4 separate regions of the Homo sapiens genome follow, and regions 1, 3 and 4 are each linked to region 2. The links come from fine-mapping of genetic effects on gene expression. A gene starts in region 2. Each other region holds a variant in brackets. All regions are shown on one strand. Distances are between the middles of the regions. Region 1 holds the start of LOC124902918 (a long non-coding RNA gene). Region 2 holds the start of KIF21A (kinesin family member 21A). Region 3 overlaps SLC2A13 (solute carrier family 2 member 13). Region 4 overlaps ABCD2 (ATP binding cassette subfamily D member 2).

The links. PIP is the estimated chance that this variant, and not a neighbour inherited with it, causes the effect.
Region 1: its variant is fine-mapped to the expression of KIF21A in skeletal muscle (GTEx, PIP above 0.99).
Region 3: its variant is fine-mapped to the expression of KIF21A in whole blood (INTERVAL, PIP 0.91).
Region 4: its variant is fine-mapped to the expression of KIF21A in subcutaneous fat (GTEx, PIP 0.93).

The regions. Positions count from the first base shown.
Region 1 is chr12:39,542,456-39,550,562 of GRCh38, forward strand. It overlaps ABCD2 (ATP binding cassette subfamily D member 2), which reads right to left. Exons shown (of 10, transcript NM_005164.4): 10 at 7,578-8,107. It overlaps LOC124902918 (a long non-coding RNA gene), which reads left to right and starts at 3,811. Exons shown (of 2, transcript XR_007063277.1): 1 at 3,811-6,152; 2 at 6,540-7,527. The variant C/A (reference allele first, on the strand shown) is at 3,192.
Region 2 is chr12:39,440,018-39,448,113 of GRCh38, forward strand. KIF21A (kinesin family member 21A) reads right to left here and starts at 3,103. Exons shown (of 38, transcript NM_001173464.2): 1 at 2,910-3,103. The coding sequence starts at 2,953. It overlaps LOC124902919 (a long non-coding RNA gene), which reads left to right and starts at 7,139. Exons shown (of 2, transcript XR_007063278.1): 1 at 7,139-7,485; 2 at 7,819-8,096. RefSeq lists enhancers at 2,044-2,113, 2,932-3,432, 3,714-3,773 and a silencer at 2,734-3,633.
Region 3 is chr12:40,000,216-40,008,325 of GRCh38, forward strand. All of the region lies in intron 3 of SLC2A13 (solute carrier family 2 member 13), which reads right to left. Among named protein-coding and RNA genes, the nearest start is that of SLC2A13, 100 kb to the right of the region's middle. The variant T/G (reference allele first, on the strand shown) is at 3,732.
Region 4 is chr12:39,565,757-39,573,866 of GRCh38, forward strand. ABCD2 (ATP binding cassette subfamily D member 2) reads right to left here. Exons shown (of 10, transcript NM_005164.4): 9 at 7,960-8,085. Among named protein-coding and RNA genes, the nearest start is that of ABCD2, 50 kb to the right of the region's middle. The variant A/G (reference allele first, on the strand shown) is at 4,448.

The DNA.
Region 1 (8,107 bases), 100 kb after region 2:
CATCTCAAAAAAAAAAAAAAAGGAATAAATTGGTAGAGTTAATGAATGGATGTAGAGAGATTAGTTAGAAAGCAATGGCAGTAGTCCAGGTCAGAGAAAACAGTTATTCTTGAACCTTGCTAATAATGGTGAAGATGGAGAGAAGAGGACTTATTCAAGGGCTGTTATTTAGGGGTCACAATGAATAGGATTTGATGGTGAATTGGCTGTGGAGTATGAAGAGCAAGAAGATGTCATGGATGAGTTCTAGGGGTGACTGAATTAGGTAGGCAAATAGGCAATGCTATGTTTATGAAAAGGGACAAAGTATAGAATGAATGAGGATAAGGGTCAGTTTTTACGTTTGGTGGCAGAAATGTAAAGGGTCAGCCAATGATCAGCTGTGAGAAAAGAAGGGAGGGGAGGACTGGGCTTGTTCAGAGAGCAGGAAAAGTTTGAGACCAGTTGTACAGAGTGGAACAGTGAGAGAACTAAAGAAATACAGGAGGATTGCTGAATGGTGCTGACAAATCTTTTGAAGTTGATCATCATGAATTTATAGTGAATATTTTACCTCGAAGAGTGACTTGCTCCAGCAGCACTCAGCTGCTCTTTTCCACATATGAAGAGAACCAGTGATTAGGATCACACATGATTGGAATTTTGCCAGATGGGTATGATCAGTATAGTTTTTGACTTATCATATTAAGTCAAAATATCAATAAAGATTGTGATAAAATCCAATTTTTCATCCCATTATAAGGACAGAGAATTTTCAATATTCACCTGCCCAGAGTTTCCTGAGAACATGGAAATTCATCTGAGAAGATGAGAGAGAGATGAGGGAAGCCAGCGTGACATTTGGACCCTTGGTCATAGGTCATAGGTCTCCAGAATTACTCCTCTCCTCTCTAAGTATAATTTCTGTTGCCGCTGCAGTCATATATTACCATCTCTCTTTCATTTCCTTATCTTTCTATTTATTATTCTTTTTTTCCAAGTCCCTTGCTCTCTTATGTCCTTTTCCTTTGTGGGGATTGTATGAAAGATATAAGCATGATGTGGACACATTAAAATTGTGTAGGAACACCAGCAAATTTGGGACTGGAGAAACGGAATTGAGAAGAACTTAGTGTTTCAGCTTTTGTTTCAGCTTTTTGGACACATTATTTTACATACAATCCAGGCTTTAGTAACCAGTAGGATCTGTTGCAAAGAGAGAAAGTCCATACAATTTCAGCAACATGCCATCTGACGTTTGGAACCTTAGCCCAATTGCAAAGAAAGCAATTTTATTATTGGCATGTGCCTATTTCCTTTTCCCTTTTTTCTGTTAATACTTTATTTATGGATTCATTCAGTCATTCTGTTACTTATTCCACAAACATATATTAAGTAACTACTATGCATCAGACACTGAGCACTAGTTCAGTATCCTCTATCAGCTCACACTTGGGGTCTTTTAACTCAAAAGGACTACCTCTCCCACAAAATTATACGTCCTTCTCTAATGATATAACCACCCAAGGAGCTCACCTTGCCCACTGCCTAGACAGAGCCAATTCATCAAGACAGGGAAATTGCAATAGAGAAAGAGTAATTCATGCAGAGCCAGCTGTGTGGGAGACTGGAGTTTTATTATTACTCACATCAGTCTCCCAGAGCATTCAGGGAGCAGAGTTTTTAAGGATAACTTGGTGGGTGGGGGGAAGCCAGTGAGCCAGAAGTGCTGATTGGTCAGGGATAAAATCATAGAGTCGAAGCTATCTTCTTGTGCTGAGTCAGTTCCTGGGTGGGGGCCACGAGATCAGATGAGCCAGTTTATTGATCTGGGTGATGCCAGCTGATCCATCAAGTGCAGGGTCTGCAAAATATCTCAAGCACTGATCTCAGGAGCAGTTTAGGGAGGGTAGGAATCTTGTAGCCTCCAGCTACATGACTCGTAAACCATAATTTCTAATCTTGTGGCTAATGTTCATCCTACAAAGACAATCTAGTCCCCAGGCAAGAAGGAGGTCTGCTTTGGGAAAGGGCTGTTACTGTCTTTGTGTAAAGTGTAAACTATAAACTAAGTTTATCCCAAAGTTATTTCAGCCTACACCCAGGAATGAACAAGGACAGCTTGGAGGTTAGAAGCAAGATGGAGTCAGCTAAGTTAGATCTCTTTCACTGTCTCCGTCATAATTTTGCAAAGGTGGTTTCAATCCCTCCCTTTAGGTTTTATAACACCTTAATCTTAAGGTGTAGATTATGAAGATAGGAAAAGGCTGTGGATCGCTCTGGCTTCTTCCTGCTGACAGGAGACATAGTGGGAATGGGAGTGAACCCCAGGGTGAGAAGAGTGGAACTGCTTTGCAACTGTCTGAGTGTACTCATGCAGGCCTGGTTGAGCTTCCAAGGCTTGCATGGCAGAAACATTAGTACTCTTATCTACAGTTTTACTACAGTGTTTAAGTGAACAGCCTACTGTAAGGTAAATAACGAGTCCTAGGATGAGTAGTACAATTTCCAATTTTAAAAGCAAAGATTTGAAAGCATTAGTTTGGGGACTTCTAATCCACAAAGAATTTAGAATTTAGCTTAAACTGCAGAAAAACACCTCAAAAACAGCTAACAACAGTGTACTATAGTTTTTCTTTTGAAGCATAATTTTTGTCTCTCTAGTCCCCATTTTTATTAAAAACAAATCATGGTAGAACTAATTTGTTTACAAAATAAACTTTAGTCTTCCTGTACTTGGCCTGATTATTTGCATGAAGTGCAGCAAGAGTAATTATTTTTCACTTAGACTAACAAAGCCTAAAAATAAAGCCTTCAAAAATTTGGCTTAGATAGGACTCTGTTCCATGAGGAATCTCAGGTAAGATTTTTTTTTGAGATGAAGTCTCGCTCTTATCACCCATGCTGGAGTGCAATGGCATAATCTTGGCTCACTGTAAATTCCGCCTCCCGGGTTCAAGCGATTCTCCCGCCTCACAACATGCAATGAAGTAAGTGCCATTATTATCTCCATTTTAAAAATGAGAAACCTGAGGCATGAAGAGGTTATATAACATTCTCAGCAGGGAGATAACAGAGGCAGGACCCCACCAAGCAGTCTTTCTCCAAAGCTAGTGTACCTAATCATCACTCAAGCCGATACCTAAGGCTGGTGGTGAGAAGAGGTGCTGTATTTCTAACAGGCTCTATTATTGGTGAAAATTTGCTTTCTG[C/A]TGTGAATTGACCTTTTCATTGTTGTGATCAGGTCTTGTGGCCATTAGGGTAAGGTTGTTCTGTTGGCATTGAGTTTTTTTTATACAAACACAAAAAGAAAGTAAAAAGACTCTAATTTGAGGAAAGACCTCTTTATGGTCATTGGCTTGATAATAGTAAGAGTATAGGATCTATGAATTCCTGGACCTGTCCACCTGACTTGAGGGATGTTGAGAGCTACCCAAAGAAGCAGAAAGAGGAAGGATATACAGTTTGGGGACTCAAAGAGAGAGGAAAACATGGAGCTAGATAGTCCATTTATATAGTTATTGTAATATCTACTTTCTATTGAATCAAGGAATTAGAAGAAATGTTTGTAAAACTTTTATTATCACCATCCTGTTGGGAAGATTTAAACCAGTGAGTTAATTCTTAATTTATTCTGGAGAGGAGGAAAGAAAGTAGATGAAATAAATATTATGAAATTCCCAAGATGCCTAATTTTTCTGTTCAGCAGAAAAGAAAAAACTGCACATTATAATTTTACCTAATAATGTGGGTTTAATACACAAGAATATGAAGGAGTGAGTGCACTTTTTAATATTCTTCTCCTACAGTAATTTTATTCATTCTCAGAAATTAACCTTTATTTTTTCATTCACATTTTTTATTTTTTGCTCCATTTGTATTCATTTGTTCACTCATGCATTTAGGCACCTATTGAATAAATACTTTTCAAGTGTTCCCTATCTGCCATGTATTGTTCTAGGTGCCATGAATACTAACTAAATAAGACAAGCAAGATTCCTACCCCACAGAGCTTATAGTCTAAGAAGGGTGGAGGTTATATGAAGTTAGATTCAATTGTCATATAAATAAATAAGATAAATGGAGATAATAATAAGTTACATGAACAATAAAACTGGGTAATGTGTTGAAGAAGGACTGGTTGGGGGAGTATTTTAGATTGAATAGTCTGAGATTATGTGACAAATAAATAGTGATTGGTTGAATGAATGAATGAGTGGTTAGGGAAGATACATGATAAAAGGTAGCATATGATAAATGTAATGGTAAGATTTGAAATAAAGTCCTCTATAGTCATAATAAAGGAAAATATACAACTGAAAAAAAATTTTAAATGTCCTTGAAGCTAGATAGGGTTTTGATAGATGAAGATGGTAGGGTAAGGGCATTGTTGGCTGAGAAAATAAAATGAGTAAGAGGAAAAGCAAAAGGGAACACCCACTGTGTCCAGTCAAGGGAATGAAGAACAGAGGAATGGAGGAAGGATAAGGGGAAACAGCTATTTGGAAGCAGAGAAAACAAATTGAGGCCAGATCATGGTGGGCCTTAAATACCATGAAACAAGTTTTAATTAAAAAATTTTTTTTTCAGGCTAAGGCTTGAAAAGACATTTGTCTAAAGATGATATACAAATGACCAACAACATATGAAAGGATGCTCAATATCACTAATCATGAGAGAAATGCAAATCAAAACTACAGTGAGATATCACATCATACTCATTAGATTGACTCCTATACAGAAAGTAGAAAATAACAAGTGCTGGTAAGGATGTGGAGAAATTGGAGCCCTTGTGCACTGTTAGTAGGACTGTAAAATAGTGCAGCAGCTAGGAAAAACAGGATGGAGATTCTACACACACACAAATAAAAACTCAGCAATTCACTTCTAGGTATATATCCAAAAGAACTGAAAACATGGTCTCAAAGAGATAATCGTACAACCATATTCACACAGCACTATTCACAATAGCCAAGAGGCTGAAGCAACCCAAGTAAATGATTAGGCAAAATATGGTATATACATGTACAGGACTGTTATTCAGCTTTAAAAAGGAAGGAAGTTCTATCACATGCTACAACATGGGGGAATCTTGTGGACATTATGCTAAATGAAATAAGCCAGTCACAAAAAAGCAAATACTGTATAATTCCACTTATATAATGTATCCAAAGTTGTCAAATTCATAGAAACAAAGTAGACTGGTGGTTAGTTGGAACTAGGGGTTGGAGAAAAAGGAGAGTTTAATGGACATAGAGTTTCAGATCTGCCAGATAAAGTTCTGAACATCTGCTTCATAACAATATGAATATAGTTAACATTACTGAACTGTACACATAAAAATGTTAAAGATGGTAAATTTTATGTTATGTGTTTTTTACCAAAATAAAAAAGAATTCAGTAACTTAAGTCCTCAAAATATTTATGCTGCTTTGTAATAAACTTCTAAGGGGTTGTGTGTGTATATGTGTATGTGCATGTGCATGTGTGTATGTGTGTCAGGTTGTAAAATATATGTATAGAAGGTCCCTGCCTTATGAGAGTTTGACCTACGATTTTTCAACTTTGCCATTGTGTGGAAGTGATATGCATCCAGTAGAAACTGTACTTCCAGTTTCCAATTTTGAACTTTGATCTTTTCCTGGGCTAGAGATATGCAGTATGATACTCTCTTGCACTGCTAGGCAGCATCAGTGAGCCTCAGTTCCCAGTCAGCCACTGATCAGAAGGGTAAACAACTAATACTCTACAGTGCACTATGATGCTAGATGATTTTGCCCACCTGTAGGCTAATGTAATGCAACCGAGCACATTTAAGGTAGGCGAGACTAAACTATGATGTTTGGCAGGTTAGGTATATTAAATGTACTTTTGATTCATGATATTTTCAACTTACTATGTGTTTATCAAAATGTAACCCCCTCTTAGGTCAAGGAGCATCTGTAGCTGCTTGGATCTACATTAACCTCATTTATCTATACCCTACCTATGTGAGTCTTGGAAACTTGTCTCATATAAACAATGAGCTAGCCTAAAAAAGGGGACTTTGACAATTGCTTCATCGGTCTTTGTCACTCTGGAAATATCAGCATCTGCATGTTGAAAAAGGTCTCATTATATTAGCTTTCCATAAGCTGTCACCTGATTATAAGACCTCTTTTGCACCTTCCCAGGTGAGTCATCAGAAAATTCTTTAGTTTTATACATTTGTAGGTCCAATGCATTTTAATTAAATTTAATATATTTAATATATACAAATTAAATATACTTCATATATAAGGTTACCCCTTATTTATATGGATTAAACTGACTAAAATTAAATGATATAGCCAAGTTAATATTATTTCATGTTTATCAGTATTTCATTGCTTCATTGCTACATAATCTGTTTTTAGGTATAATATTAAATCACATAAAAACTCATAAGTGAATACTTAATCTTTTTGTTTCTATATTGGGTCACAAGTACTGAGACAAATTATGTAACTTTAAATATTATTAACTTTGGAATCCTTGTTTATAACACAACTATAATTGTTTATTTTTCTTTTGCTTTTTAGAACTTTCCTGCTATGTTTATCTGAGTTTTGTGGTAACATACGAGACTTACCTTTGAATGTATAAAACTGGCTAGTTTTACATGATCTGAACTTGAGAAGCGGTTTCTTAGGTTTCAAGACAACATGCTAAATACATAGGACCATCTACTGGCAAAGGATGATATAGTCCTAAGGACTGGTTTTGTTGGAACTTGTAATAGCCCAAGTTAAAGATCATGAAGATTGTGAAGCCCAAAAGTGTATTATTGAGGGAATCCTGCTGCCAGAATATGCTTATCACTTAAATTGCAACAGAGTGGTCTTAGATAGAAAATACAAGAGCTGAGAAGATACTACAAAACAAGTAAGTCATTTATATGGAGTCACAACATCTAACTGGCATACATTTGTTTAATATTGATATAGTAAAATATTTCATGAGGGCTCTGACAAGGACTGTCTTGTTAATCTCTGAATCCCTAGCATAGCAACTGGTACATGGAAGTGTCAACAAGTATTTACTGAATCAGTGAATGAATAATGACAACCAGGGCCTCAAAACTTTTGAAAATTTGCCTTATATTCTCCCTCTCCCATAGGACCACACCCATAATTTAAAATAAAAAAAATACAAAGTGTAACATAAGTTCCCTTTTTAGATGAAAAGTGCATCTATCTGTTTGGTTAACCAGAAACCTTGAGTCAGTAAAAATTATACTTAATATTTACGTTAAAAATAGTAATAATGAAAAATGACCTAAACTAATTAAAAGAAGGTTATGTGGACTTGCATAGGCTTTATAATCAAATATTGCTCATGTCAAATTTCAGCTCTATAGTTTGGGTATTGTATGAGGTTGGATTAATTACTTAACCTTTCTCTCCTCATTTTCCTCTTTTATTAAATTAGCATTTTGTTTATACCCTACAAAGATTTGGTGAAGTCTGTAAATGCAATGATTTGTGCCTACTTGGTAAGTACTAATAATAAATCCAGCTGTTGACTTTTTGTCTGACTGAGGGCATTCATTTTCCTAATTTTCAATGGTCACAAGCATCTTCGGACAGGGACCAAATTTTATTTAGTAATAGAACTTAGCACAGTGCCTGGCATAGGTAGATACTTATTAAATGTGTTGTATTAATAAAGAAAATTAATATTTAAATAACTATTTGGTGACTATTGTCTATAGTTCTACACACGGTTATATACAATACAATGTCTAAGTAAGGCGTATATAGACATATACCCAACATGGCCATTTGCAGTATAGAAACAGGGTATTTTGTAAAAATGGAATAATTTGTAATTCCTTTGATTAATCTAGTCTTTTTCTTAATGGTTAAGGAATTCATAAGGAATGATGAGTTCAAGTAAATACACATCAGATGGAAATTATATTATAATGTACTCACACACAGCCACAATTTCATTTAGCTACATAATGATTTTTACCTTTAAGGACATTTTTCTCATTCATTTTCATTAATACAATTCTGGCTTATAAATAGACCATTGGTTTTGAAAATTTCACAATATGAAATGTAAACCAGCCCTGAACTTGGTAGTCAGGAAAAGCATCAACAAT
Region 2 (8,096 bases):
AGACACACGATTTTGTATTGATTTATTTATTCTGCTGAGGAACCCTTCTCAAACTGAAGGGTAGGGTAACAGGAAGCTGGAAAGATTAAATAATTTGAGGAAATATTTTAGTAAGTTCAGGTCCTGTCTTAGTTCTATCTTTTCTAGCAATATCAAAATATGAATAACCTGTGAAAGCCACTCATTTGTAAATGAACTAATACAAAATCAAGAACAGGCAACTGACCCAAAGCTAAGTGAAACTTTGCAAAGCCATGTTCTTGCCTCTCACTTCCGCAGGGTTAATGGTTAAGAACTTGGGCTACTGAGTCAAGCTATCTGGGTTGGAACCCTGGCTCTCTCATTTGTTACCAATTTAACTTTGGATGGTTTACTTAATCTTTCTGTGCCTCATCTGTAAATGGCCATAATAACAGGACCTAAGTCACAGATTGTTATGAGGAATAAATAAGACTTTACATGAGATAAAACATCTTAACACAGCACTAATCCCGGCACACAGTATAAGTCAAACAATTATCACTACTTTTAGCCCAGAAATCAGGATAACAGAGACGGGTATATATCTTCAATAAATAATGGTTATAAATGAACAATATAAGTCCAAACACTTTATAAATACTAAAGTGCTATATGAGTATAAGCTATTTTTATCCTATATAAAGTAAGTTTACAAGGTAGCTCTGTTCAGAGAACAATGTATTTAATGAAAGAAATCCCCGATTTATCCAGGCGCAGTGGCTAATGCCTGTAATCCCAGCAATTTGGGAGGGACGGCTTGAGCCCAGGAGTACAAGACCACTCTGGGAAACATAGGGAGGCCCCATATCTACAAAAATGTATAAAAATTAGCCAAGCAGTGTGGCACATGCCTGTGATCTCAGCTACTCAGCAGGCTGAGATTAGAGGATTGCTTGAGCCCATGAGGTTGAGGCTGCAGTGAGCTATGATGGCACCACGACACTCTAGCCTGGGTGACACAGCAAAACCCTATCTCAAAAAAAAGAAAGAAGAAAGGAAAGAAGAGAGAAAGAGAAAGGAAAGAAGGAAGGAAGGAAGGAATCCTGAATTCAACAAATTGAATCTTTACAATATGGCTTACTAAGTTATGTTGAAGTTTTTATAAAGCCTTTCCCCAAAAATCAAACCCACATTCATTCACCTAAAAAGTCCTAACATACACACCAAAACAAAATACAAGTTATTTATCAGTCAGCATCACTTTAGGGTCATCCATGGCTCTACAGGCAAAGAAGCATCGGATTTAACAGAATGGTCAACAAACTGCCTTGTGATAGTCTAGAGAATTCACATATAAAAATCTCAAACGTCTAAAAACAGACAAATTGTCTGTTTTCAGTAATATTTTATGCACCTTCTTCACTTTCCTTGATCAGATCTCCTAACAAAATTGCCTCTTATTGGGTTTTCTGTCTTTTTCCTTCCCCTTTCTCCACCCTGGTGCAGTCATTAACTGGTATTAAAGGGCCAAAAGAGAGGTAGTAGCAGTGAATAGGAGAAACAGACTAATCTAACAATTGGATAAGTAGCCCTAGAATAACGAAGAAGGCCTAATTAAAACTTCAAAAGCCTTATAACAGGTGATTCTAACCAGTCATAAAACTGTCACCTCCCTGGGTGGTAAAAAAAAAAAAAAAAAAAACACTTAAAAACTCATTTTATTATTTAAGTTAATTAAAGATACAAAGTATACGAAACAGCCATTACTATGCCTGACCCAAGATGTGTCACTAAAATAGTAACTATAGAAATGTTTAGAGGGGAGAATTTTTAGAATAATTTTCTGGAAAGACTACAAGACTGGGAGATTGTTAATAGTTCCTAATTCCTTGGAGTGTAGATTATTTTTATAATCCTTAAAGCATAAATAAGGAGAAGTGAATTAACAGTAGACTCTCAGAGCTGTGAAAGCCACGCACTTACTCTAGGATGAATGCTTCATTAATTTTTCACACAGTGTGATGATGTTGCAATTTTCCATGAGCAACTATCAGAGCTTTCCTTCTTGATAAGTATCAAAACAGCCGAAATTACATCGAATACTCGTGCCTGTCATTGGCCGAAATATAATTTCAATACTAGGATGTACCTAGTATTTCCAGACTCACACCCTGGCCTGGGTAACGTTACGATTACATTGTATCCACCCTGCCTAATGTCAGTATGTTTCACACAGTCACCCATTTCACCCTTCCTCTGGCTAAAGAGTTTTCCTCCTTCTGTAGACCTCTCCCCAGTGGATTTTACCTTAAATTCCACTCCCATTCCAACACCCAAGAGGCTAGATCTGTCTCCTCTACCCACACGCGGGGGCATGTCTAGATCCCCGTGATGCTGAAAAAGATGTCTCATTTGCACAGACATCAGAACCCGAGTGGGCGCGCGGCGGGCCCTGCGGTCGCCGGCGCTGATAGTCAGATGCTTTGTCTCCTGCCTGGGAAGGCCGGAGCTGCATGGACACGTATGACAGACATTCTAGAACTAATAAAAAAGAACACCACAGCCCCGCGCACAGGCAGCTCCTCCCGGACAGGCGATAGCCCAAGGCGGCCAGACCTGAGGTGACTGATCCCGCGAGGGGACGGAGGGGAGTGACGAGGGCTTTTCCCCCAGAGAAGTCAAGACGCCCCCCAGGGACCCGGCGCCGCGCAGCCGCCAGCCACCTGCAAACACAGACGGCGTGAGGGCGGCGCAGTCGCCCTGCCAGCACCCGGCCGCGCGTGCCAGGCCAGCGGGGACTCACTGCCTCAGTTTCCTCAGCCGCAGAACCCGGCCGGGACGCCCCTCAGGTCGCTCCACCCCGGTAGCCGGTGCTCCGCGCCACAGCCAGGTCCTTGCCGCGCCCTCAACCCGCCGCCCGCCGCCCGCCGCCGGCAGACTGTCCTCACCTGACAGCCACCCGCACGGAGCTCTCGTCCGGGGCGCCCAACATGCTGGCGGCGGGCAGCGATCGAGCCGTTGGGCCTCGGCACCGCAGAGCTGAGGCGCCACTGGGGCCGCGGGACTCGGGCGCAGTAGGCTGGGGCGTCTGCGGGCGGGCGGCCGGCTCACCTCCGCCGCGCTCCAGCCATGTTGGGCGACTGAATGGAAAGGTGGCGGCGGCGCTGAGGCAGCAAGAGGAGGAGGTGATTCACGGCTCGCGGGCGCCCGCCCCTTCTCCACCGCTCACCCCCCAGGATCTGGGGCGGGGACAAAGCGCGCTTGAACGGCGAGCGCGCCTGTGGAGAAGCCAACAGGCCGCCAGCGGCCTCAGGGCGGCCGGGTGAGTGCGCCCTGCCCCCTCCGGTGGGGACGCGGCCTCCCAGCGGCCAGGCTGGGGACTCCACGCCCGCCAGGGCGCTCCGGGCTCCTCGCCCCGCACTGCGTCAGCCGCCGCCGCGCGGCTCAGCCCCACCTCGCCCTCCCCCAGCCTGCGCCCCGCCCTGCCCTCGTCGGGACACTGCCTGGCGCTGCTGGGCAGGGAGGCGAGGGGGAGGGATGCCTGCCGCCGGCTGCCCTCGCCCGAGGGCGACCAGCCTGTGCGCCCTTCCAGGCTCTTCTGGGAGAAGGAAGCAGCTAGTGCACGCGCTGCTGCCAGGTCCCTTCTCAAATCGAAGCTTGATTCAGCGGCGCGCCGGGAGCCAGGCAGCTGCTGCTGCGGTTCGGCTTTGTGTCCCACGCATAGCCTTATTGTCCTCTCTGCAGCTTGGACTTTGACCCCCTTCCCTAGCCCCCAGCTGAACGCCCTCCCTCCTCCCTCCCCGGAGTCAGTCATTCATGCTAAACGGACTCCCAGGTTTGTCCACTGTCTCTGGACAGCTGGGCTGTTCTACAGTTCATCGCCCGTTTACCAGCTCGGGTGGGATATGGAAATGATTTATTCGAGACTCCTGAATGCTTTTCTGTTCAATCATTTGTACACTGGTAAATGAACTGCACCCTGGTACTGCCAAGTGTTCCCAGAACTGAATATATCCACCAAGACCTGCTGTGTAGTAAATCCTTCCAAACTGATTTTCTTTCCCTTCTGGCCTTTAAAAAGCACCTCCCAATCCCAGGATTCTCTCAACATTGACCCATTGTGGTTTCTGTTTGTCACTATTGTGCTTCCACATGCCTTCAGATAGCTCTGTGGAAACAGCCTTTATTAGCTTTGCCACAGAGTATCTTTTGTGGACTGCTCCATACATCTCTATAAACAAACATGTGGCTTCATACGAAATAGTATCACAAATTAAATGGCACTATCCAAATAAAGGCACTACCTCAAATGCCTGCAATCTACAATCACATACCTAATCATCTTGTTCAGCAGTGATACAGCAGTGTGGCTCAGAGAAGGCTGCAACACTATGGGAAAAACAAGAAGTGTTTGATGATTTAAACCCATGGGAAGGCCGATGGGGTATATAATTATAGATAGTTTTAAATTTATTCTGTCCCTTAATCTCACTACCCCTAAATCTTAACAGACATGTAACTGGGAGGTAAAGAGGGCAGAGATGCTGAGTATCCTTCTATAGATCAAATTGGTGGGAAAGCTCTCCTCTGGCTACTCTTTGGAGGGCCTTTCCTAGCCTCAAAATTTATCCATCAACAAATCAGAGCTGCATTTCACCCTGCCCTGGCAAGCCCATATCTGGGTGGATCTGGGCTGGCCACCTTGCTTCTTTTGTTGATGAAAGCTGCAAGGAAAGCAAGAATGGCCCAGCACATTTAACAAGAAAACTAAAGAGAAATTTGTATAATTAAGACCCTCTTTTTAAAAAAAGTTCTTTTTTATTTTATTTTATTTTGAGACAAAGTCTTGCTCTGTCACCAGGCTGGAGTGCAGTGGCGTGATCTCGGCTCACTGTAACCTCTGCCTCCCGGGTTCAAGCGATTCTTCTGCCTCAGCCTCCTGAGTAGCTGGGACTACAGGCGTGTGCCACCATGCCCAGCTAATTTTTGTATTTTTAGTAGAGACAGAGTTTCACCGTATTGGCCAGGCTGGTCTTGAACTCCTGACCTTGTGATCCACCCGCCTCGGCCTCCCAAAGTGCTGGGATTACAGGCATGAGCCACCACACCCAGCCTATTTTATTTTTTGAGACAGTGTCTCGCTCTGTCATCCAGGCTGGAATGCAATGGTGTGATCTCAGCTCACTGCGACATCGACATCCTCCTCCGGGGTTCAAGGGATTCTCGTGCCTCAGCCTCCGGAGTAGCTGGGATTTCAGGCATGTGCCAACACATCCAGGTAATTTTTGTATTTTTAGTAGAGATGGGATTTCACCATGTTTACCAGGCTGGTCTCAAACTCCTGACCTCAAGTGATCCGCCCACCTCAGCCTCCCAAAGTGCTGGGATTACAGGCATGAGCTACCTCACCTGGCCAAAAAAAGTTCTCATTTTAAATAACAATAGTATACATATATGTCTCAGTAAGGGGAGTCACAAACACAAATGCCTACAGGAGCCAGGCAGGTAGCTCAAAAGAGCAGAGCAAGATGAATACTATGATAAAGGTGAGGACTATCATAAAATAGAGACACAGGCCCCTTCCAAAGGTGGTGGCCATCCTCAGCTCTGGCTGAATATTGCCTTGATGAAATGCAAATCCAATGCTGCCAAGATTTTTATTTCTTGTATGTATGTTGCTTCTCAAGAAAAAGAGAAAAACAGATCTTTATGAAAAAACTCCTTAGTTTTAAACACCAACGACTAATTCAGCACAATATTTACATATGCTGCAAACCAGACAAAATATGTCTCAGGCCAACTTTAGTCCCAAGACACCAGGCTGGAACTTCTGGACAAAATATTAGCACCAATAACAGCTGTGGCTTTGGGTTCATATTGCACATGGTTTCAGGAAGAGGCAGTGTAGAAATTCAAATTCTCATTAATGACCTAGTCAGTAATTTTTCCCCAAATTTCTAAAGTTGTAAAATTAACATACTATTTTGTATTTAGTTCCAATTCATTTACAGCTGCTATAACACCTTTCCTTATGACTCCTCTTTTTTTTTTTTTTTTCTGAGATGGAGTCTCGCTCTGGAGTCTCGCTCTGGAGTCTCACTCTTTCGCCCAGGCTGGAGTGCAGTGGCACCAACTCGGCTCACTGAAAGCTCTGCCTCCTGGGTTCACGCCATTCTCCTGCCTCAGCCTCCCGAGTAGCTGGGACTACAGGCACCTGCTACCACGCCTGGCTTAACTTTTTGTATTTTTAGTAGAGACGGGGTTTCACCATGTTGGCCAGGATGGTCTCGATCTCTTGACCTCGTGATCCACCCGCCTCGGCCTCCCAAAGTGCTGGGATTACAGGCGTGAGTGACCGCGCCTGGCCATGACTCCTCTAAATAATCTTAATTTCTTAATTTCAAGAAAGTTCCAAGGGAAGAGCTTTTACTGCAAGAGTGGTTTAAGTCTTATTCCAATCATTGACTCAATAAATATTTTAAGTGATTATATGCAAACAAAGTGAGGGACAACAGTGATTTAGAGAAGAATAAGACAATGTCAGTGCTTACAAGGAGTTTACTGTCTAGCACAGGAAGATATGTTTGAAAATACTAAATGGAATAACAGAAATTACGAGAGAAATACGATGAATTTTACCTGGACGGGTAAGGAATTCTTCAGATATAAACTGCACAGGATGGTCTCCCTGAGTCCACTCTTGCCTTCATATTGCAGGAATAATGTTTTTGTTGGTTTTTTTTTTTTTCTTGAGACAGAGTCTCACTGTTGCCCAGGCTGAAATACAGTGGGGCAATCTTGGCTCACTGCAACCTCTGCCTCCTGGGTTCAAATGATTCTCCTGCGTCCAAATGATTCTCCTGCGTCAGCCTCCTGAGTAGCTGAGATTACAGGCACCCACCACCATGCCTGGCTAATTTTTGTATTTTTAGTAGAGACGAGGTTTCGCCATGTTGGTCAGGCTGGTCTCGAACTCCTGACCTCAGGTGATCCGCCTGCCTTGGCCTCTCAAAGTGCTGTGATTACAGGTGTGAGACACTGTGCCTGGCCAGAATAATGTCCTTTTAAACATAAGTCATTTATGTCATTTCTCTGCCTGAAACCTTCCAATGGCTACTAACACAAATAGAATAAATTATTCTACACTTTAAGACCTTCACACACTGTCCCTGCCCCAACTCTGACCTCACCTTTTGCCACTCTATACCTTAACAACTACTTTTTGGTGAGACTGGTTTTCTTTCTATTTCTGGAACTCATAAAGTTCTTTCCTGCCTGAGGGTCTTTGCACTAGCTATACCCTCTCCCTGGAATGTTCTTTCCCCAGACCTTCCCATCGTTGGCTTTTTTTTTTTTAATTTCTAGGTTATCAGTTTAAATGCTGTCTTCTCAAAGAGGCCTCTCTTGATCACCCAGTCTAAAATAGCACCCCCACAAAGACCAGCTACCTGATTTGCACAACCCGGTACAAAATGAAGATGTGAGGGATCTTGTAAGAAAAGGAAGATAAAAATGATATGAAAGGTACGAAAATAGAAAGTTTTTCCCCTTCCTTTAAGCTCTCTTGTGTCACGGTGTTTTTTATTTGCTATTTAATGTCATTCTCCAGAAAGAAAAGTTAAAGTTTTAGATATTTCCATGACTTTCTCCATTCATCTTTATAGTGTACAATGCTGGTTTTAAGTATCAACAGAAGAGCATTTAACTCTTACATGGGATTATAAAAATTATACAACTTATTTCATAATTCATACATGCATTTTATTCTTAACAGTAGAAACACTGCACAAAACTAACTCAACTGTTTTTATTTCATACACACATATGCTAATAACATTTCCTACCTTTGACTTACAGATTAATAAGGAAGAACTGAAAAGAAAGGAAACTACTCTGTCCCGTCTTTACCTTTCCTTTTACTGACATGGTTTGGCTCTGTGTGCCCACCCAAATCTCACCTTGTTTGTGATAATCCCCATGCATCAAAGGACAGGACCAGGTGGAGATAGTTGAATTGCAGGGGCAGTTTCCACCATGCTGTTCTGATAGTGAGTGAGTTCTCATGAGATCTGATGGTTCTGTAAGGGGCTTATCCCTTCACTTGGCACTCATTCTCTCTCTTGCTACCCTGTGAT
Region 3 (8,110 bases), 560 kb after region 2:
TTTCTTTTGTAGATTGCCCAATCTCAGGTATGTCTTTATCAGCAGCATGAAAATGGACTAATAAACCATTAGCTCTACATTAAAAAACAACAACAACAGCAACAAAACCCAAAAACTTACAGGCTGTAACAGGCTATATAATCTGTGAACCTCTACCCTCTACTAAATTTAAACTGAAACTCAATTTACATTAAGGTCATCAGGTCTTTTAAGGTGCTTTTCACAGTCCTAATGACCGACACATACACCTGGTAGTGCCAAGCACCTGGGATCTCCATGTAATGGTTTGCCAGGGCTGCTATAGCAAAGTACCACAGACTGGGTGGCTTAAACAGAAATTTGCTTTCTCACAGTTCTAGAGGCTCAAAGTCCAAGATCATGGCATTGGCAGGTTTGGTTTTTCTGGAGGCCTCTCTCTCCTTGGCTTGCAGATAGCCACCTTCCCGCAGTATCCCGACATGTTCTTTCCTCTGTGTGTGCAAATCCCTGGTGCCTCTTCCTCTTCTTATAAGAATCGCAGTTATAGTGATTAGCGTTTACTCATATGACCTCATTTAACCTTAATCATCTCTAAAGGCTCTATCTCCAAATGTAGTCACATTATAAGGAACTGGGGGTTAGGACTTCAACATATGAATTTGTAGGGGACACAATTTATTACATGAAGCCCCACTCACTACTTAATCCCAGTGGAACAGTAAACACTAAAAAAGGCTAGCTGGCCGGCCAATGAGTGCCACACACAGGCTGCAATGCATTCCCCAATGTCCAAAAGCTCCAGGTCCTCACCAAGAGGAGAAATGATAAGAGAGGGCATGGACACTCAGGAGAAATTATTTTAGCATATGTAAACATCAACATGACCAAGCAAACAGGAGTCTCCTGACTCACACACTCAATGGATAAGCACTGGTATGTTTAGCTGTTTTCAGAAAGTTTCCTCAACTCTATCTGCTGATGTTAGCATTCACTCAAAGTGGGCCTTAACGACAACAAAAAACTGCATTGCCAAAATCCAAACTGGCAGCACATACTGGAGAGGGGAACACAAATAACAAGCCACCCTGTAATTTGTAAATTTTCTTTCAAAGTGAGCTATAAAAAAGACATTAAAGACACTTCTTGAATATTTCTGATATTGATTTGGAATAAAAAGTCAGGTGAATGGATGTATTTTCACTGTCTTAGCCTACATGCTGTTATCTTTTCTAAAAATTGCCTTACACCAAAAATAATATCTTTAATTTCCACAGTCTTCACCATTCTTAAATATTTTTTCATTTCACTCTCCCAATGACTCTGTGAGGTAGACAAGGCAGGAAAAGATAAAGAAAATGAAACTTGGTAGTTAAATGACTTGCCCAAGGTCACAGACTAAGAACTGAGGGAATCAGAATGAGAATGCAAGTCTTCTGACATCTAAGTCAGCACTCTTTATTCTTGGGACTTAATGACATTCAAGGCACTGAAACTATGATCTTGCAAAATTCACTTCACTTAGCACCACTGGGATGTAAAAGTCTATAAATAAAATTAAATGTGCATAATCACAAAGTGAATTTGTTCTGAATAAAAATAATTCTATTTCTTCAATAAATATGACATTTCTAAGTTATCAATCATCCCAATGAAAATTTTAGAAGCAGCATTTTCGTTGATAATTTATTTCACTAGGATAAATAACTGGGTAAACATAATAAAGTTTCAAAGCAAGAAAATCAATTTCCATAATTAATAATACAGAGCAAAATTTAACCTAGCAAATAGATGATTTTATTAAGTAGGTGATCTTACTGGTCTACCGCACACATTTTCACTAGGCTGTAAACATTTCTCCAACTAACAACTGAAATTAAGGAAAACAAATGAATCATTGGATGACTTTAAATAATCAGGTTTAAGAAAAACATGCTTATTGAAAACCAACTATCTAAACGTCAACTACAATAAAAAATTGTTGTATTGGGCACTTATTATGCGCCAGCCTAAGAACTTTGTGTGCACTGCCTCACTCAGTCCTCATAATTATCCTATAGTGGGTACTTTTTCATACTCATTTTACAAATGAAGAGACAATAGTGAAGTTAAGTAATGTATCCAACAACAACATTTAAAAAGTGGCAAAGTCCCAATTCACACCCAGCTCTGTTTGACTCCAAAGTCTGTATTACACATCTCTCTAATGCCTTGATCCCAAATACAAAGAATAATGAATGAATTGCCTATCACAACTGAAAACAGACTGAAAGATGGGCTCAGAAAGCAACAAAATAAATAAAATCTGTAAGCAATATGCACTATTAAACATGAAATGAATGAATGAGGTCATGGAATTTCCTCTAAAAGTCTTTTAAAAAGGAACAAATGATCTTCAATTCAAATTCTTTCATGCAGCAAAACTACTCAGCACATGTCATGAGCTAGGAACTCTCTTAGGTCCTTGAGACTCTGAGAATAATATGACACAATCCATCCCCGTGAAGGGTTCAAAGTCCACTGAGGAAGGTAAAGACACAGAGGAAGTTTTAAAAGGCATTAATATGGATGATGGCATAGGCTAAGGTTACAAAAATGCCTAGCATGTATGGGGCTCTGATTTCTAGGGTATGGCTGAGTATAGTGTATATTCCCCTAAAAAAAAAAAATGGGAGAAGGAACTTCATAAAGCTGCTTTTCACTCTCCTTGACAGCCAGTGACATAATGATATTTTGTTAGCCAAAAAAAGCAAACTAGGGGTTAATAATTTACATCCATGATTTGTACACTGGAAAGGAGCCCTCACGCTAGGCGTATTGGTCACTGGCTCAGTGCCCTGCTCTGTGCTCCACAACCACCCTCTCCCCTGGTGAATAATAATGCCATCATAATGGACTGGGACAGGGAGAGATGTTTGGGAACCACTCCTGTAAATATGGACATTTATACAGTTCACCCAACACAACTATGTAAATTAAAACAGTTATATAATCAGGAATAAAGTTAATTTTTTAAAAAGCAATACCTATTGAGAAGGAGTTTATGAATTATGCTAGCCTCAACTTCCACTTCAAAAAGAATAGTATATGAATTACCCTATTTAACAACTAGAATCTTAAATTTCAATGCATATCATTTTTAATGCAGTGCTAGCTTATTAAAATTATAACGATTATCTCCAAGGACCAAGGAAGAGGAGAGACAAAAACAACACTTAACCAAAAAGTGAGTGGGCGCTGATGGCAATAACAAAACTCAACCGTCAGAGGTGCCCCATAGACAAATATTTTTAAATGTTCTTGAATCTATAAATCTAAGCCTTGGATATGCTATATCGTGGGGTAGCTAAATCTGTTGGTTCCCTATCAACGTGTATTACTGAAGGGACTAATGACATGCCAGGCCCCTAATATGCCTTAACCCCTGTTCTATAAAAAAGCAAGTCATCTCCAAGGAGAAGAAACACTCAAGAGGTATCATCGTGGGTTTTTTTTTTCAATACATTTAGAAATGTATTGAATTTTTAATTTATTACAAAGTACCAGACATTTTTTCTCATTCTCTCATATAATACCACACACAAAAATTCTACAAAATGGGAGTATTATTCCCTTTCTGTAGATGAGGACACCGAAGCACAGAAAGTTTAAATTAGCTGGGCGTGGTGACGGGCGCCGGTAATCTCAGCTACTTGGGAGGCTGAGGAAGGAGAATCGCTAGAACCCAGGAGGCAGAGGTTGCAGTGAGCCGAGAG[T/G]GCGCCATTGCACTCCAGCCTGGGCAATGAGAGCAAAACTCCATCTCAAAAACAAAACAAAACAAAAAATTCCTCCCAAAAAACACAAAAAATAAAAATACAAAATACAAATTTAAAAAAAGATAGTATAACAACTATTTGCATAACATTTACACTGTATTCGGTTTTATAAGTAATCCAGAGATTATTTCAAGTATATGGGAAGATGTACATAGGTTATATGCAAATACTATACAATTTTATTTTATTTTATTTGAGATGGAGTTTCACTCTTGTTGCCCAGGCTGGAGTGCAATGGTGCAATCTCAGCTCACTGCAACCTCCATGTCCTGGCTTCAAGCAATTCCCCTGCCTCAACCTCCCAAGTAGCTGCGATTACAGGAATGTGCCACCATGCCTGGATAATTTTGTATTTTTAGTAGAGACAGGATTTCACCATGTTAGACAGGCTGGTCTCAAACTCCTGACCTCAGGTGATCCACCCACCTCAGCCTCCCAAAGTGCTGGTGTTACAGGCATGAGCCACCATACCCGGCCACTGTACCATTTTATATCAGAGACTTGAGCAATCACAGATTTTGGTATCTGAGGCGTATCCTGGAATCAAGCCCCCATGGATACCAAAAAATGACTGTAGCACAGACTGGGCAATGAGTAAAGGACAGATTTTTTTTTTTTTTTCACAGTTCTAGAGGCTAAAATGTCGAAGATCATGTTACTAGCCTCTGGTTTTCAAGATGGCACCTTAAACACTTTTGGCTCCCCAAAAGCTTAACTACGAATAGCCCACTGTTAACTGGGAGCCTTATCAATAACACAAACAGTTGATTAATATATATTTTTAAGTCATATGTACTATATACTGTATTCTTACAATAAAGTAAGCTAGAAAAAAGAAAAAGTTTTTAAGAAAATCATAAGAGAGAAAAATATATTTTCTATTCAATGAGTAGAAGAGGGATTATCGTACAGGTCTTTATCCTTATTGTCTTCACACTGAGTAGGATGAGGAAGAGGAGGCAGAGGAGGGGTTGGTCTTGCTGTGTCAGAGGTGGCGGGGGAAGAAAATCCACCTGTAAGTTCAAACCCATGTTGTTGGAGGGTCATCGGTACTGCCTAACCCTACCTTATCTGTAATCACTTACCAGCACTGCTGACAAAGACACATTTTTGCTAGAAACAAATTAGCAAGAGAAATTAGGGGTGAAAACATTAAACTTTTGAGATTTTTCAAAATTATTGAAGAGTTAAAGAAAAAGGGGCCTGTAGCTACAGTATGAAGAGACCTCTAAACTAATCTGTGTACTTTATACTTCACAGAATAGAGGAAGGGAAGAATGAAGTTCATTTGAAGTGTCCCCAGGTGAGCCACAACAAATCCCTCATCCAGAGGTACAACTACCCTTTAGTATTAGTGCAGGCATCTGGAGGCTCCTAGTAATGCTTAATGATAGCTTACAAAGGGTATGTGGGTGTGTATCTGGTGGGTAGTGGAGTATGGTGATCACTTAAACTAAAAGGAAGTTTAAGAGACCAACTCAGAAAGTAAGATCCTAAATCAGTGGTTCTCAAAGAGTGATACCTAAATCTGAAGTGGTTCTCAAAGGGCAGTCCAAAAAAGCAGCACTGGCATCACCTGAAACTTGCTAGAAATGCAAATTCTTAGGCCTCCCGTTAGACCTACTGATTCAGGGTTCTGTGCATGAAGCCCAGTAATCTATGTTTTAATAGGGTCTCTTGCCACTGATTCAGATGCATGCTAATTAGGAACCACTGCTCTAAAATCCACTAAGTGGCAGTGTGCCACCAAAAGGCTATACGATTTTATATCAGAGACTTGAGCAATCACAGATTTTGGTATCTGAGGGGTATCCTGGAATCAAGCCCCCGTGGATACCAAAGGCTATTTTAAGTCCGTGGTTCTCAACCTTGGCTGCATATGTGTATAATTAAGAAGCTTCCAACGTAAGGCCCTACCTCAGAGAATCTGATTTCACAGTTTTTGCTTCTTCCAATGATCAGCCAAGGTTGAGAATCACATTTCTAGATGATTTAATAATTTCAATCAAACAGGGTTAAAATTTGAAAAAGAAAAACAGTACATGAATGTTTTAAGTCTAAACATACTCAACTTCCCACCATATGAGTATAAATTAATAACCCCATACAGTCAGCTAATACTTAGGCAAAATACAAAATTGAAATTAATAACGCAGGATTAAAATGAAACCTAAATGTTTACAGGAGCTCACTGGGAAAACATAAGAATACAATATTATTTTTTTCCAAAAAGAAATTTTGAAATGTATAAGCTGTAACAGAGTGGCAAGAATACTTGACTTTGTATCTCAGGTATATCTGGGCAAGAGATTTGCCTCTGTCTTCTATCAGCTGTAACATTTTGGTTAATTTTATTTTTCTTTCCTTAGCCTCCACTTCTCCTCCAGAAAACAGTCAATAATATGAATCTCTATCAAAGAGATGTGGTAAGGATTAAACAAAACAAAGCATGTAAAGCATTTGCCACCATAACTGGCACATAGTTTATGTTCATTAAATGTAAGCTTATTAGTAAGAAAATTATGTTAAAATGAAAATATAGTAACAAAATAATGAATAAATTCTAAGAGTCAGGTAAAATTTCTTTCTAATAGTCTAAGCAAAGAAAAAGAGGTATTAAGACAATAACAGTAGTAAAGATTTAGGTGAAGGTCTCCATATCAGAAGTGCAGGAAGCAAGTACAGTTAGATATAAACATTGTACTCACTTCCCTTATCCTCCTATCAATGGAAGCAATCCCACCTGTTCACTCAAGTCTCTCTGGAGAAAAAGTGGTTTACAAGAATAAACCCATGTCTACAGTGTCGGCTAGACAGATCTCAAATACACATAACAAATTCATACTCTCTGCTGCCAAGATCATATTTTTAATTCCTTCATAAATTTAATCATTAATAATATAAAGAAATTCCCATTTGAGTATTTGTAATGCTAGCAGATGCACACTTACTTCTGATTCTTCCAGTTTCCAGCAATGGGTCACTAATCAGTTTATTTATTTATAAAGAAGATGAGCCACATCTTTTAATTAGCTAACAGTCATGTGTGTTCAACTTTCGTTTCTTTCTTTCTTACTAAAGTTGACCCAGTATAAGAATTTCTTGAAACTAATGAGCCCCTCCCACCTTTGCTCTGTGGCTGAGAGAAGTGCCCAATGTGAAGTGGGCACATAGATGCTGCGAGAAGGGAACTCATTCATAATTTTCTATTAGAAACAGTGATGGAATTGCAGAAACTTTTGTTTCCTTATACATTAGGTTATTTGTCATATTTTCTATAAAAAACTTGCATTACTTTTAAAGATTCAAAATTTTAAGCACACGGTCTAGTAAGTATATGAAAGAAGAATCAGTAAATAGTTCAAGAATAGTATAAATATTCTAAAACTTCATAAGTTCTTTTTTGCTATCCAAAAAAAAGCCACACAAAATTAATTGACTGTCCACCAAACTATTTTATTTACAATTGCTGCTGAAAACAACTTTAAAACTTTTTTTTAAAAAAAGGTCATTACTATTTTAAAATTAAGCATAATCCCAGAACTAGACTCACATAGTTTTTAAATGATGATGGAAAAGGGTATCCTTATATAGTACATTGAAGAGTGTATACTGTTCTAATAAGATAAGCTTTGTTTTGAATTCTTAGTTCTTCTATTTCCTAACAGGGTAAACTTGGGCAAGATTGTTAACTTCTCTATCAATTTTTACAACTATAAAATGATAATAGTTCACATTTTAGTTATTTGGCTTGCTGTAAGAATTAAAAGAAAAAAATATGGCACAATACCTCACACATAGAAGCCATTAAATATGAGTGGTAGCATAATTATTCAAAGGAAGAAACACTATTCAAAGAAGGAAGATATCGTTTACCAGCCTTAAAGATTCCATACATGGAAAAACGCCTTATCTATATTACTTTTATAATATACAATGGGTTTTACGGGAAAACCCAGATTTAAAATATAAGCACTTTCTACTTCTGAGGTAGAGTCTGAGGTAATTAAACAGCATCAAAAGATTCAACTAGTTTAAACCAACATATGTATAATTCTGAACTAATCAGCATCTCAAAACATTTAAGGATTTTTTTTAAAAAACCTATCCAGATTTTTTAAAATTTTAGACTAAATATAGTAACACACCTGCTAAAATGATTCCTTATAACAACATTCTCTTATCTGAAATTCTGTTAATAAAAGTAGAACAGAGAAGCCAAAAAGATTTTACTAAGGCATAAAAAGCAGCAGGGTGGTGGTGATGACAGGAAGCTCCAGGGTCAAGATACCAAATGTTAAGAGTATGGAGAAACAATT
Region 4 (8,110 bases), 130 kb after region 2:
CTGTGGGTTTGTCATAGATAGCTCTAATTATTTTGATATGCATCCCATCAATACCTAATTTATTGAGAGTTTTTAGCATGAAGGGTTGTTGAATTTTGTTAGAGGCCTTTTCTGCATCTATTGAGATAATCTTATGGTTTTTGTCATTGGTTCTGTTTACATGCTGGATTACATTTATTGATTTGCATATGTTGAACCAGCCTTGCATCCCAGGGATGAAGCCCACTTGATCATGGTGGATAAGCTTTTTGATGTGCTGCTGGATTTAGTTTGCCAGTGTTTTATTGAGGATTTTTGCATCAATGTTCATCTGGGATATTGGTCTAAAATTCTCTTTTTTTGTTGTGTCTCTGCCCGGCTTTGGTATCAGGATGATGCTGGCCTCATAAAATGAGTTAGGGAGGATTCGCTCTTTTTCTATTTATTGGAATAGTTTCAGAAAGAATGGTACCAGTTCCTCCTTGTACCTCTGGTAGAATTCGGCTGTGAATCCGTCTGGTCCTGGAGTTTTTTTGGTTGGTAAGCTATTAATTATTGCCTCAATTTCAGAGCCTGTTATTGGTTTATTCAGAGATTGAAATTCTTCCTGGTTTAGTCTTGGGAGGTTGTTTGTGTCGAGGAATTTATCCATTTCTTCTAGATTTTCTAGTTTGTTTGCATAGAAGTGTTTATAGTGTTTGCTGATGGTAGTTTGTATTTCTGTGGGATCAGTGGTGATATTCCCTTTATCATTTTTTATTGCATCTATTTGATTCTTCTCTCTTTTCTTCTCTATTAGTCTTGCTAGCGGTCTATCGATTTTGTTGATCTTTTCAAAAAACCAGCTCCTGGATTCATTGATTTTTTTGAAAGGTTTTTTGTGTCTCTATTTCCTTCAGTTCTGCTCTGATCTTAGTTATTTCTTGCCTTCTGCTAGCTTTTGAATGTGTTTGCTCTTGCTCCTCTATTTCTTTTAATTGTGATGTTAGGGTGTCAATTTTAGATCTTTCCTGCTTTCTGTTGTGGGCATTTAGTGCTATAAATTTCCCTCTACACACTGCTTTGAATGTGTCCCAGAAATTCTGGTACGTTGTGTCTTTGTTCTCATTGGTTTCAAAGAATATCTTTATTTCTGCCTTCATTTTGTTATGTACCCAGTAGTCACTCAGGAGCAGGTTGTTCAGTTTCCATGTAGTTTAGCGGTTTTGAGTGAGTTTCTTAATCCTGAGTTCTAATTTGATTGCACTGTGGTCTGAGAGACAGTTTGTTATAATTTCTGTTCTTTTACGTTTGATGAGGAGTGCTTTACTTCCAACTATGTGGTCAATTTTGGAATAGGTGTGGTGTGGTGCTTAGAAGAATGTATATTGTGTTGATTTGGTGTGGAGAGTTCTGTAGATGTCTATTAGGTCTGCTTGGTGCAGAGCTGAGTTCAATTCCTGGATATGCTTGTTAACTTTCTGTCTCATTGATCTGTCTAATGTCGACAGTGGGGTGTTAAACTCTCCCAATATTATTGTGCAGGAGTCTAAGTCTCTTTCTAGGTCTCTGAGGACTTGCTTTATGCATCTGGGTGCTTCTGTATTGGGTGCATATATATTTAGGATAGTTAGCTCTTCTTGTTGAATTGATCCCTTTACCATTATGTAATGGCCTTCTTTGTCTCTTTTGATCTTTGTTGGTTTAAAGTCTCTTTTATTAGAGACTAGGATTGCAACCCCTGCATTTTTTGTTTTCCATTTGCTTGGTAGATCTTCCTCTATCCCTTTATTTTGAGCCTATGTGTGTCTCTGAACATGAGATGGGTCTGGGGAATACAGCACACTGATGAGTCTTGACTCTTTATCCAATTTGCCAATTTGTGTCTTTTAATTGGAGCATTTAGCCCATTTACATTTAAGGTTAATATTGTGTGAATTTGATCCTGTCATTATGATGTTAGCTGATTATTTTGCTCATTAGTTGATGCAATTTCTTCCTAGTCTGCATGGTCTTTACAATTAGGCATCCTTTTGCAGTGGCTGGTACCGGTTGTTCCTTTCCATGTTTAGTGCTTCCTTCAGGAGCTCTTTTAGGGCAGGCCTAGTGGTGACAAAATCTCTCAGCATTTGCTTGTCTGTAAAGGATTTGATTTCTCCTTCACTTATGAAGCTTAGTTTGGCTGGATATGAAATTCTGGGTTGAAAATTCTTTTCTTTAAGAATGTTGAATATTGGCCCCCACTCTCTTCTGGCTTGTAGAGTTTCTGCTGATAGATCAGCTGTTAGTCTGATGGGCTTCCCTTTGTGGGTAACCCCACCTTTCTCTCTGGCTGCCCTTAACATTTTTTCCTTCATTTCAACTTTGGTGAATCTGACAATTATGTGTCTTGGAGTTGCTCTTCTTGAGGAGTATCTTTGTGGCATTCTCTGTATTTCGTGAATTTGAATGTTGGCCTGCCTTGCTAGATTGGGGAAGTTCTCCTGGATAATATCCTGCAGAGTGTTTTCCAACTTGATTCCATTCTCCCCGTCACTTTCAGGTACACCAATCAGATGTAGATTTGGTCTTTTCACATAGTCCCATATTTCTTGGAGGCTTTGTTCATTTCTGTTTATTCCTTTTTCTCTAAACTTCTCTTCTCACTTCATTTCATTCATTTGATCTTCCATCACTGATACCCTTTCTTCCAGTTGATTGAATCGGCTACTGAGGCTTGTGCATTCACCATGTTCATTCTCGTGCCATGGTTTTCAGCTCCCTCAGGTCCTTTAAGGACTTCTCTGCATTGGTTTTTCTAGCTAGCCATTCGTCTAATTTTTTTTCAAGGTTTTTAACTTGTTTTCCATGGGTTCGAACTCCCTCCTTTAGCTCGGAGTAGTTTGATCATCTGAAGCCTTCTTCTCTGAACTCGTCAAAGTCATTTTCCATCCAGCTTTGTTCCGTTGCTGGTGAGGAGCTGCGTTCCTTTGGAGGAGGAGAGGTGCTCTGATTTTTAGAGTTTCCAGTTTTTCTGCTCTGTTTTTTCCCCATCTTTCTGGTTTTATCTATCTTTGGTCTTTGATGATGGTGATTTACAGATGGGGTTTTGGTGTTCATGTCCTTTCTGTTTGTTAGTTTTCCTGCTAACAGTCAGGACCCTCAACTGCAGGTCTGTTGGAGTTTGCTAGAGGTCCACTCCAGACCCTGTTTGTCTGGGTATCAGCTGTGGAGGCTGCAGAACAGCAAATATTCCTGAACAGCCAATGTTGCTGCCTGTTCATTCCTCTGGAATTTTTTTCTCAGAGGAGTACCCAGCTGTGTGTGGTGTAAGTCTGCCCCTACTTGGGGGTGCATCCCAGTTAGGCTACTTGGGTGTCAGGGACCCACTTGAGGAGGCAGTCTGTCCGTTCTCAGATCTCCAGCTGTGTGCTGTGAGAACCACTGCTCTCTTCAAAGTTGTCAGACAGGGACATTTAAGTCTGCAGAGTATTCTGCTGCCTTTTGTTTGTCTATGCCCTACCCCCAGAGGTTGAGTCTACAGATCCAAGCAGGCCTCCTTGAGCTGTGGTGGGCTCCACCCAGTTGGAGCTTCCCTGCCGCTTTGTTTACCTACTGAAGCCTTGGCAATGGCGGGCACCCCTCCCCAGCCTTGCTGCCGTCTTGCAGTTTGATCTCAGACTGCTGTGCTAGCAATGAGCAAGGCTCCGTGGGCATAGTACCCTCCGAGCCAGGCACGGGATATAATATCCTGGTGTGCCGTTTGCTAGGACTGTTGGAAAAGCGCAGTATTAGGGTGGGAGTGACCCGATTTTCCAGGTGCCGTCTGTCAACCCTTACTTTGAGTAGGAAAGGGAATTCCCTGACCCCTTGTGCATCCTGGGTGAGGCGATGCCTCGCCCTGCTTCGCCTCACGCTCGGTGGTCTGCACCCACTGTCCTGCACCCGCTTTCTGACACTCCCCAGTGAGATGAACCCGGTACCTCAGTTGGAAATGCAAAAAACACCTGTCTTCTGCATCGCTGATGCTGGGAGTTGTAGACTGGAGCTGTTCCTATTCAGCCCTCTTGGCTCCACTCCCCCAGATAACATGTTCTTATCCTTCATTTTGTTAATGTTATGTACCACATTTATATATAGAAAGTACTAAAGACTCCATCAGAAAACATTAGATTTATAAATGAATTCAGGAAAGTTGCAAGATACAAAATCAGTATGTAAAAATCAGTAGCATTTCTCTACACTGACAGCAAATTATGTGAAAAAAATCAAGGAAACAATCCCATTTTCAATAGCTAGAAAAAGTTAAACACTTAGGCATAAATATAAGCAAGGAGGTGTAAGGTCTCTACAATGAAACTATAAAACATTAATGTAAGGAATCGAAGAAGACACACATACACAAATAAAATGATATCTCATGTTTATGAATTGGAAGAATTAATATTGTTAAAATGTCAATACTACCCGAAGTGATCTACATATTCAATTCAATCCCTATGGAAATGCC[A/G]ATGATAGTCTTCAGAGAAATAGAAAAAAAATTCTAAAATTTGTGTGCAACTGCAAAACACCCAAAATAGTGAAAAAATTCTTGAGCATAAAGTACAAAGCTGGAGCCATCACACTACCTGGTGTCAAAATATACTACCAAACTGTAGCAACCCAAACAGCATTGTACTGACACAAAAACAGACACACAGACTTAAGGAATAGAATAGAGAACCCAGAAATAAATCCTTGTATTTATAGTCAACTGATTTTCAACAAAGTTGCCAAGAACACACTATTGGGAAAGGGCAGTATCCTCAATAAATTGTGGGAAACTGTATATCCACAGGTAGAAGAATGAAATTTGACCCTTATTGCTCACCATATGCAAAAACAAACTCAAAATGGATTAAAGACTTCAATGCAAGACCTGAAATTATTAGAATACATAGGGCAAAAATTTCATGACAATGAAATTTGGATATAAATTTGAAATGACAATGAAATTTGGGCAACGAGTTTTGGATATGACCTCAAGAGCATAGGCAACAAAAGTAAAAATAGACAAATGGGATTACATCAAACTCAAAAGCTTCTGTGCAACAAAGAAAACAATCAACAGAATGAAGAGATACCTATCAAATTGGAGAAAATATTTGGAAACTATATATCTGATAACAGCCAACATATATAAGAAATTCAAACAACTAAATAGCAAGAAAATGAATAACCTGATTACAAAATGGACAGAAGATCTGAATGAACATTTCTCAAAAGAAGATACACACAAATGACAAACAGGCATATCAAAAAATGCTCAACAACACTAATCATTAGGTAAATTCAAATCACCTCACTCTTGTCAGAATGGCTATTAAGAAAATGACAGAAAGTGTTGGTGAGGATGTGGAAAAAAGGGAACTCTTACACACCTTTGGTGGGAATATAAATTAGTATAGCCATCATGGAAAACAGTAAGGAGGTTCCTCAAAATGTTAAAAATAGAACTACAAAATGATCCAGCAATCCCCCACTGGGAATATATGCAAAGGAAATGATCTCAGTATGTCAAAGAGATAACTGCACTCCCATGTTTATTTCAGCACTATTTTTACAGCCAACATATGGAATCAACCCTAGTGTCCATCAATGGATGAAAAGATAAAGAATGTTATATATATACATGATGGAATACTACTCCACTGTAAAAAAGAATAAAATCCCGCCACTTACAAAAACATGGAAGAACCTGGAGGACATTATAGTAAGTGAAATAAGCTAGACACAGAAAGACAAATACCACATGATCTCACTCATACATGGTCATTCATATATTGGGCAAACACCACCTTCGATGTATAATGATGGTTTGGCTCATCACTCTGGTCTTACAACATTATTTGATTTCTACATGGGAGGAACCAACTGTGTAGGCGTTTCATACCCTGAGATTCAAACGCATGTTCTATATTACAAGCTGAGATAATATTTCAGGGTTTATCTATTTTAACTGAAACTCATTTGAGATAATCTTTAAACTTCCTTCACAAATAGGAAAAAGCTTAGGAAAGTGATGGTTATACAGCTATAATTCTATCCAGGAATCAGAAATTTTAATAAGCTTCTATAAATTTTTACTTCTTCAGACTCTAGTATTGATTTTAATCTTTACAATCAACAATTACTCATTTGTTGTTATGGGAAAAATATGACACATCTTTCCCCACTTCTGAAATCTATTCAGGGAAAATGAAATTTTTATTTTCCCTGAGAGAAAGAATAATCAGAAATGACAACCTGAAATGGCAAAGCTAAATAAAAAAATCAGAACTAACATGTTGTTTTGTTTTGTGGAGAAATGTACTTGGGTAGCTGCAATTAAAAATGTGTTTCTTGTCAAAAGGCATAGCCTTACAGATTTTGTTATTTACTTAAAAAGAATATTTGTTCCCTCAATTGAGGAAACAATGGCTATATATGCTTTCAATGCCTCCTAAGGCTACTTGAGTAAGGAATTGAATGGCAGGATAGCATAATAAATCCATTAACACAGGTCAGAAAAACTCCAAGCCTAATATGTCCCAACATGTGATTAATTTGGGAGAAAGTCTGGAAATCAAGGTTCATACCAAAAAGGGCTCAAGAGTACTGGCCTAGCTCTGTGTTGTCCTTGATTCAGAGGATTTACAGGCAAATGTCATTATTGTCTTAAAGATCTAGGTCCTGTTGGTCTTCTTCAGGATAAAAGTCAGAGGAAGCATATTCATTGGCATGGATCCTAACTCATGCTGGACTAGATCCAGAAAGTATATTTTTTAAAAATTCTGAAAAATCTGAAGGTTTAAACTGAGTGTGAAAATAGATTATCTTTTCAATATAAATGAAACTCAGAGTCAAAGAATTTTGAACAATAAAAGCCTGATTGGATGAATACTGTTTGCTAACAATTTTAATGTAAACATTCTTTATAAGGTCAAAGGTCTAGAAGGGCTTCAAGGATTAATTCCAATAATGCTTGCTACTAGGCTAGATTTGAAGCCATGTACATCATGACAACTTTGGCATGAAATCTGATCAGCCACCTGCCACAGAATGCTGCAGCCAGAAAGAGAGAGAGGAGGAATCCTGTGCAGTCCTTTAGAAAACAGGAGGCCAAAGCATATATAGAGACAGTTATAGTTACTAAGAAGTCAAAAGAAAAAATTTTCATTGATTAAATAGAAATGCAAAAGTAGAGAATGTAGTATTTATGGTTAATGCATGAGATACACTTTGAGTTCCTTATAATGAGAGCCGTGTGCTGTAGTACAGAGTATGTGATCATGGAAGTATCTCACTTTTCTAGTTCTCAGTTTCTTCATCTGTAAAATAGGAAGATTAGATTTCCTAAATTCCACAGGGTTGTTGTGAGGCTTAAATAAGATGTACCTGGAACAGAATAAGTGCTCAACTATTATGATGATGATGAATCAATGGAAAAGTAGGGGAATTGTAAAATTAGCATCTTTATTTGAAGGGGAAATTCTATATGGTTTTATGAGATATTAGTTCTAAAAAAATTTAGCTCATTTTTCTTTAAACCAACTAAAAATAAGCCCTCCCCCCTTCCCCACCACCACCTGTGTTTTCTCCACTTAATCCTTTGGGGGAGTATCAAGTTGTGTGTACATATATTTTTTTCCCCAGATTTTACTTTCCTGGGTTTTAGAGAAAGGACTAAAAGAATGATGTACAAATATATAAATATATTTTTCCCAGTACATGTTACTGGGTAATGATAAATATTTTCCATTAAAATAAATCACTGGATTTTTCCATGTCTTTTAAGAATTACTGGAAACTGATGATAATTCAAATAATACACTAATGATATTAGGTAGGGAGTATCTAAGCTACTAATGTGCAACTTAAGAGAAATATGGGTAGAAAATAAGTGAAATACCCTACCCTCTACTGTGAAAAATTTAGCAAAGTTATTTTTTGAGAAATTTAAGGAAAAACCATCTACCACAAATTAGCACTAGAAACACTTACCAAAGAGAAGGTCTGTGTGTTATAGACAGTAAGGAAATTCCAGCCCCTTTTGCAGCCTGAAATATCTTTCCTTCGACATCAATGCTGACAGCACTGGTACATTCATCCAGCAAGGCATATTTTGGTCTTTTAAAAAGTACACACAAAAATT